2 linked regions of the Homo sapiens genome follow. The protein of the gene in region 1 interacts with the protein of each later gene in a pairwise test. Each region holds a gene or a part of one and is shown on either strand. Other genes may lie near its edges.

Evidence for each region.
Region 2: the proteins of HEXB (region 1) and AIRE interact in a two-hybrid assay, tested with the Homo sapiens proteins (one large-scale study listed by BioGRID and IntAct).

What each region holds. Positions count from the first base shown.
Region 1 is NC_000005.10:74,709,057-74,712,877, reverse strand, and holds part of HEXB (beta-hexosaminidase subunit beta isoform 1 preproprotein), read right to left. Parts: intron 1-3,821. UniProt on the Homo sapiens protein: Hydrolyzes the non-reducing end N-acetyl-D-hexosamine and/or sulfated N-acetyl-D-hexosamine of glycoconjugates, such as the oligosaccharide moieties from proteins and neutral glycolipids, or from certain mucopolysaccharides.
Region 2 is NC_000021.9:44,288,723-44,292,543, forward strand, and holds part of AIRE (autoimmune regulator), read left to right. Parts: intron 1-934; coding exon 935-1,080; intron 1,081-1,265; coding exon 1,266-1,346; intron 1,347-2,372; coding exon 2,373-2,488; intron 2,489-3,579; coding exon 3,580-3,679; intron 3,680-3,821. UniProt on the Homo sapiens protein: Transcription factor playing an essential role to promote self-tolerance in the thymus by regulating the expression of a wide array of self-antigens that have the commonality of being tissue-restricted in their expression pattern in the periphery, called tissue restricted antigens (TRA).

The sequences.
Region 1 (3,821 bases):
TCAATATTGTTTGTAACTAAAGTTGTGAGCTGTTCCTTAGCACATTTCTCAAACTATGGCCTATAAGTGCTCAGTTGCGGAAAAGCAGTCTTGTCTCCCAGCACTGCAAATCAAATTTCTATCAAGACTAGATTCAACTACCAGTTTATAGTAAATACAGGGACATATTAATTGACACTGTGGGGTGCAATCAGCAAAACCCAGACTGTGGGAAACTGTAGGACACATGACTCAGTTTCTTCAACAACAATTACAGGAGAAAAAGGTGGGAAGAGCAGACCTGTAGATCAAAAAAGAATTACTAGACATATTAACTCACCACAATTATGGAGCTTATTTGTATCCCACTGCAAATGTTTTAAAATAATTTTTTAAATAAGAGAAAAAGACAGTTGGAGAAATGTGAATTTTTTTTTAAAATTTAAAGCATTTCTTTTTTTTATTATTATCATACTTTAAGTTTTAGGGTACATGTGCACAATGTGCAGGTTAGTTACGTATGTATACATGTGCCATGCTGGTGCGCTGCACCCACTAACTCGTCATCTAGCATTAGGTATATCTCCCAATGCTATCCCTCCCCCCTCCCCCACCCCACAACAGTCCCCAGTGTGTGATGTTCCCCTTCCTGTGTCCATGTGTTCTCATTGTTCAATTCCCACCTATGAGTGAGAATATGCGGTGTTTGGCTTTTTGTTCTTGTGATAGTTTACTGAGAATGATGATTTCCAATTTCATCCATGTCCCTACAAAGGACATGAACTCATCATTTTTTATGGCTGCATAGTATTCCATGGTGTATATGTGCCACATTTTCTTAATCCAGTCTATCATTGTTGGACATTTGGGTTGGTTCCAAGTCTTTGCTATTGTGAATAGTGCCACAATAAACATACGTGTGCATGTGTCTTTACAGCAGCATGATTTATAGTCCTTTGGGTATATACCCAGTAATGGGATGGCTGGGTCAAATGGTATTTCTAGTTCTAGATCCCTGAGGAATCGCCACACTGACTTCCACAATGGTTGAACTAGTTTACAGTCCCAACAGTGTAAAAGTGTTCCTATTTCTCCACATCCTCTCCAGCACCTGTTGTTTCCTGACTTTTTAATGATTGCCATTCTAAATGGTGTGAGATGGTATCTCATTGTGGTTTTGATTTGCATTTCTCTGACGGCCAGTGATGATGAGCATTTTTTCATGTGTTTTTTGTCTGCATAAATGTCTTCTTTTGAGAAGTGTCTGTTCATGTCCTTCACCCACTTTTTGATGGGGTTGTTTGTTTTTTTCTTGTAAATTTGTTTGTGTTCATTGTAGATTCTGGATATTTCCTTTGTCAGATGAGTAGGTTGCGAAAATTTTCTCCCATATTGTGGGTTGCCTGTTCACTCTGATGGTAGTTTCTTTTCCTGTGCAGAAGCTCTTTAGTTTAATTAGATCCCATTTGTCAATTTTGGCTTTTGTTGCCATTGCTTTTGGTGTTTTAGACATGAAGTCCTTGCCCATGCCTATGTCCTGAATGGTAATGCCTAGGTTTTCTTCTAGGGTTTTTATGGTTTTAGGTCTAACGTTTAAGTCTTTAATCCATCTTGAATTGATTTTTGTATAAGGTGTAAGGAAGGGATCCAGTTTCAGCTTTCTACATATGGCTAGCCAGTTTTCCCAGCACCATTTATTAAATAGGGAATCCTTTCCCCATTGCTTGTTTTTCTCAGGTTTGTCAAACATCAGATAGTTGTAGATATGCAGCGTTATTTCTGAGGGCTCTGTTCTGTTCCATTGATCTATATCTCTGTTTTGGTACCAGTACCATGCTGTTTTGGTTACTGTAGCCTTGTAGTATAGTTTGAAGTCAGGTAGCGTGATGCCTCCAGCTTTGTTCTTTTGGCTTAGGATTGACTTGGTAATGTGGGCTCTTTTTTGGTTCCATATGAACTTTCAAGTAGTTTTTTCCAATTCTGTGAAGAAAGTCATTGGTAGCTTGATGGGGATGGCATTGAATCTATAAATTACCTTGGGCAGTATGGCCATTTTCATGATATTGATTCTTCCTACCCATGAGCATGGAATTTTCTTCCATTTGTTTGTATCCTCTTTTATTTCATTGAGCAGTGGTTTGTAGTTCTCCTTGAAGAGGTCCTTCACATCCCTTGTAAGTTGGATTCCTAGGTATTTTATTCTCTTTGAAGCAATTGTGAATGGGAGTTCACTCATGATTTGGCTGTTTGTCTGTTATTGGTGTATAAGAATGCTTGTGATTTTTGCACATTGATTTTGTATCCTGAGACTTTGCTGAATTTGCTTATCAGCTTAAGGAGATTTTGGGCTGAGACAATGGGGTTTTCTAGATATACAATCATGTCATCTGCAAACAGGGACAATTTGACTTCCTCTTTTCCTAATTGAATACCTTTTATTTCCTTCTCCTGCCTAATTGCCCTGGCCAGAACTTCCAACACTATGTTGAACAGGAGTGGTGAGAGGGGGCATCCCTGTCTTGTGCCAGGTTTCAAAGGGAATGCTTCTAGTTTTTGCCCATTCAGTATGATATTGGCTGGGGGTTTGTCATAGATAGCTCTTATTATTTTGAGATATGTCCCATCAATACCTAATTTATTGAGAGTTTTTAGCATGAAGGGTTGTTGAATTTTGTCAAAGGCCTTTTCTGCATCCATTGAGATAATCATGTGGTTTTTGTCTTTGGTTCTGTTTATATGCTGGATTACATTTATTGATTTACGTATATTGAACCAGGCTTGCGTCCCAGGGATGAAGCCCACTTGATCATGGTGGATAAGCTTTTTGATGTGCTGCTGGATTTGGTTTGCCAGTATTTTATTGAGGATTTTTGCATCAATGTTCATCATGGATATTGGTCTAAAATTCTCTTTTTTGGTTGTGTCTCTGCCCGGCTTTGGTATCAGGATGATGCTGGCCTCATAAAATGAGTTAGGGAGGATTCCCTCTTTTTCTATTGATTGGAATAGTTTCAGAAGGAATGGTACCAGTTCCTCCTTGTACCTCTGGTAGAATTCGGCTGTGAATCCATCTGGTCCTGGACTCTTTGGTTGATAAGCTATTGATTATTGCCACAATTTCAGCTCCTGTTATTGGTCTATTCAGAGATTCAACTTCTTCCTGGTTTAGTCTTGGGAGAGTATATGTGTGGAGGAATTTATCCATTTCTTCTAGATTTTCTAGTTTATTTGCATAGAGGTGTTTGTAGTATTCTCTGATGGTAGTTTGTATTTCTGTGGGATTGGTGGTGATATCCCCTTTATCATTTTTTATTGCGTCTATTTGATTCTTCTCTCTTTTTTTATTAGTCTTGCTAGCGTTCTATCAATTTTGTTGATCCTTTCAAAAAACCAGCTTCTGGATTCATTAATTTTTTGAAGGGTTTTTTGTGTGTCTATTTCCTTCAGTTCTGCTTTGATTTTAGTTATTTCTTGCCTTCTGCTAGCTTTTGAATGTGTTTGCTCTTGCTTTTCTAGTTCTTTTAATTGTGATGTTAGGGTGTCAATTTTGGATCTTTCCTGCTTTCTCTTGTGGGCATTTAGTGCTATAAATTTCCCTCTACACACTGCTTTGAATGTGTCCCAGAGATTCTGGTATGTTGTGTCTTTGTTCTTGTTGGTTTCAAAGAATATCTTTATTTCTGCCTTCATTTCGTTATGTACCCAGTAATCATTCAGGAGCAGGTTGTTCAGTTTCCATGTAGTTGAGCAGTTTTGAGTGAGTTCCTTAATCCTGAGTTCTAGCTTGATTGCACTGTGGTCTGAGAGATAGTTTGTTATAATTTCTGTTCTTTTACATTTGC
Region 2 (3,821 bases), on another chromosome or scaffold:
ATGTGCATGGGCCCTCCTGGGCCATGGGGTTGCATCCTTAGAAAGTTCTGCCTGTGCTGCTGAGACCCTCCAGGGTATCGGCATTCTTCAACCAGGACAGCCTGTAGCATAGCGTCCTTGCCCCCCATACCCTGGCCAGCCTGCAGCATCCTCGCCCGCCATTCCCTGGCCAGCCGCTGACCCCATGCAATCACCAGTGCCATCTGACCAGGGCACAGCAGGGCCGCTGGTGGCAGACCCACCGTGCCATCGGGGCATTCCATCTCAAGTCCCTGACACGGTGTCTCCTCGGTGCTGGACATGGGCTGGGAACACCAAGCACAGCCAGGGCCCTGGTCTTGCACCTCTGGATGGTCCCAAGGCCCACTGTGTTACTTCCTAAGGCTGTTGGTTAAATTGGCACAAACTGGGAGGCTTGAAATGACAGAAATGCCAACATCGAGGTGTCTCGGGGCCACACTCCCTCTGGAGGCTCCAGGGAAGAATCCTTCCTTGTGTCTCCCAGCTGCTGGTCATTATGGGGGTACCCCTGTGCTCCTTGTTCCTGGGCTCAGGACCCACCGCTCCAGCCTCTGCTTCTGTGGTCTCACAGCTGTCTCCCACGTGTCCTCTTTATAAGGACACCAGTCATTGAACTTATGGTCCAGTGTGACCTCATCTTAACTAATCACATCTACAAAGACCCTGATTTCAAGTAAGGTCACACTCTGAGGTTCTGGGTGGACGTGAACTTCGGGGGACGCTGTTGAACACCCTGGTGTAGATCCAGGACAATCCCCGGGCCCCAGACTCGACTGGGGTGGGGGCGGGCTGGAGGAATGCAGGCTGTGGGAACTCCACCTGTCTCTGCTAGACCCCACCCTGGGGCCTACACGACTGCCAAGGCAGGTCCTGCTGGGCGGGTGAGCCAGGACCAGCCGGCATCTCCTCCCAGGCGGCTCCAAGAAGTGCATCCAGGTTGGCGGGGAGTTCTACACTCCCAGCAAGTTCGAAGACTCCGGCAGTGGGAAGAACAAGGCCCGCAGCAGCAGTGGCCCGAAGCCTCTGGTTCGAGCCAAGGGAGCCCAGGGCGCTGCCCCCGTAAGCACCTGACCTTCCCTGGGGAGCCTGGCTCTTGATGCCCCCCGCCCCAGGAACAGCGTTGCCTCTGGGGGAGTGGCTCTGCTGGGGGCTGGGGGCTGCTGCCGAGAGACGCCTGGTGCCACAGCCATGTGCACCCTCGCTGCTGAGGCTGCCCCCATTGCTGACGCCCCTCTTCCTTGCAGGGTGGAGGTGAGGCTAGGCTGGGCCAGCAGGGCAGCGTTCCCGCCCCTCTGGCCCTCCCCAGTGACCCCCAGCTCCACCAGGTAATGCCCTAGACCACAGGAGAGGCCCCTGTCTGCCCTTGCTCCCCTCGGGTGGGTCCTGCTGCCTCTGCCTTTACCTGGGCACTCAGGGATGAGCACCGGGGCCTGAGCCCCTACCCACAGGGTACAGCTCTTTTTCTTTAATAGACAGTATTTTTTTCCTGATAATACGCAATGGTAATAGTTTAAATGAGTCAGAGAAAGTGAGGTCTTCTCAGGCTCTTAAGAGCATGGCGTTTGGTCCAGGCTGTACCCGCTGCTCTCAGCTGGGCCCGTGGGTGGGCCGGGCGCCCCTGCTATAGCCAGGAGGTCAAGGATCCACTGGGAATGCCATGCTCATCTTTCGTCCCCAGCATGGTTTCTTAATGGGGTAGAAGCAGTGTGGGGGGTGCCTGCCGTGGTGGGTTACAGATCTTGACCACTTGGCACCAGGGGCTCTGTGGGGCCCTGGCACTTAGCAGTGACAGGAGCCAGTCCTGCCCTGCAGGAGCACCCGGGCTGGTGGGCGTCTGGGGGATTGTTAGAATGAGTGAGGTCATTGCCGTGCAGGACCAGCCTAGCCTGGCTGTCTGGGGGGATTCTGGAGGAAGTGGTACCTGGGAGACCCCTGAAGGCACAGCAGGCACCATCCAGGCAGGGCACAAGGACGGTGGGGGCTGCAGGTGGAGGATTCAGCAGGCGCTGAGGTCGGGAGAGACCTCCCTGGGCCTGGCCCCACTGCCCTGTGAGGAAGGGTTCATGTGGTTGGTGTACAGTTCCGGGGCCCCTGGAACGCAGCAGCCTGCAAGAAACCGGGTTTTCTTCCCAATAGGGATGGCCCCGGGGGGTGTCTGTTGGAGACCAGATGGATGGGGAACAGGTGGTCAGGGCAGAATTTCAGGCCCTGGCAGCATGGGAGCAGGGCAGAGACTGGGGAGTTCAGGTACCCAGAGATGCTGCTGGGGGAGCTGTTTTGGGAAGGAGGTGGCTCTCAGGAGGGTGCTGCACCCCAGCCCAGTCTGCATGGGCGTCTCTTGCCTGTGCCAGAAGAATGAGGACGAGTGTGCCGTGTGTCGGGACGGCGGGGAGCTCATCTGCTGTGACGGCTGCCCTCGGGCCTTCCACCTGGCCTGCCTGTCCCCTCCGCTCCGGGAGATCCCCAGGTGAGCCTGCACCTCTGCCAGCGCAACCAGGCCACCCCGGTTCACGGCCGCCTCCACCCACTGACCCTGAAGGGAAGCCACCCCAAGCCTCTCCCATCCAAGATGGAAAGGGGTTCTGAGTCAGGTCACTGGGCCGTGGGGCCGGGGCCTGGGGTTTTCCCACCCTGCCACCTGCCTCCCGGTCTGGCCACACCTGCTGCCCAGCCTGGACAGCTGGGCCCCTGAGGGCAGCAAAGCAGAACAGAGGCCCAGGGCGAAGATGCCACCCTGTCCAAGCTCATCCCAGGCTGCAGCCCACGCCCCCATGGGTAGCCGGCCCCCACCCCCAAGCCCCACCCCAGAGTCCCACTCCAGACAGGGCTGGGGAGCACAGAGGCCACAGAGCTGTGCCCCCCAGGGCAGGTGGGAGTTTGTCCACCAATGCACAGGACGCCGGGCTTAGTGGGGGCGGGAGGCCTCCTCTGCGTTCACATCCCGGTGCTCCTTCCCCACGGCCCACCGAGCCCTGCCCCCATTCCAACCCCACAGGACGTGGCAGTCTGTGGGAGGAAGAGCTCTGGGTGCAGTGGGGACCCACGTTCAGGCGAGGCTCTGCCCCAGCCCCTGAGTGGCCGTCATCAGGCCCCCTCTCAGCCTTGTGCCTCATCACTAGAATAAGGGGCACAGTGGGGGTCATTGCTCGGCTCCTGAAGCCGTTCCTCCTTGCCGTCTCTTTCTGCCCTTGATCACCTCCCCATTCTGCTGGGTGCCATTCCCCTTAACAGGTGGGTCAGTTTAGGGAGGCCCCCGGCAGGGCCCAGCCCTGAGAGGCAGGCAAAGCCACCAGGGCTCGCAGGTGTTGGGGATTCCTGGGGTTCATCAGAGAGCACGCCAAGGGGACCCTGATCACGCTGGCCAGGGCCACCCCACGAAGGGTAAATGTCCCCCTGCTGGGCTCTCCCTTCCTGTGTCTCTGCCCATCTCTCTGCTGTGCCTCGGTTCCCCCTCTGTGAAAAGACATGGTCGGAGCCCTGGAGCTCCACCCGTGGGTTTGGGGATCTGTCACCCGCTGTCTTGTTCTGCATGTCTCTGACTGGTGGACACACGAGCAGTGGGACCTGGAGGTGCTCCAGCTGCCTGCAGGCAACAGTCCAGGAGGTGCAGCCCCGGGCAGAGGAGCCCCGGCCCCAGGAGCCACCCGTGGAGACCCCGGTATGGCCACGCCCCCTCCTAGCCGGGCCACCCCTCCTGTCCACATGGCCACGCCCCCTCCTAGGCTGGGCCACCCCCTCCTGTCCGTCTGTCCCCTGGAGTCCTGTGGGACAGGACTGCCCCAGCCATAGCACTATGTCCC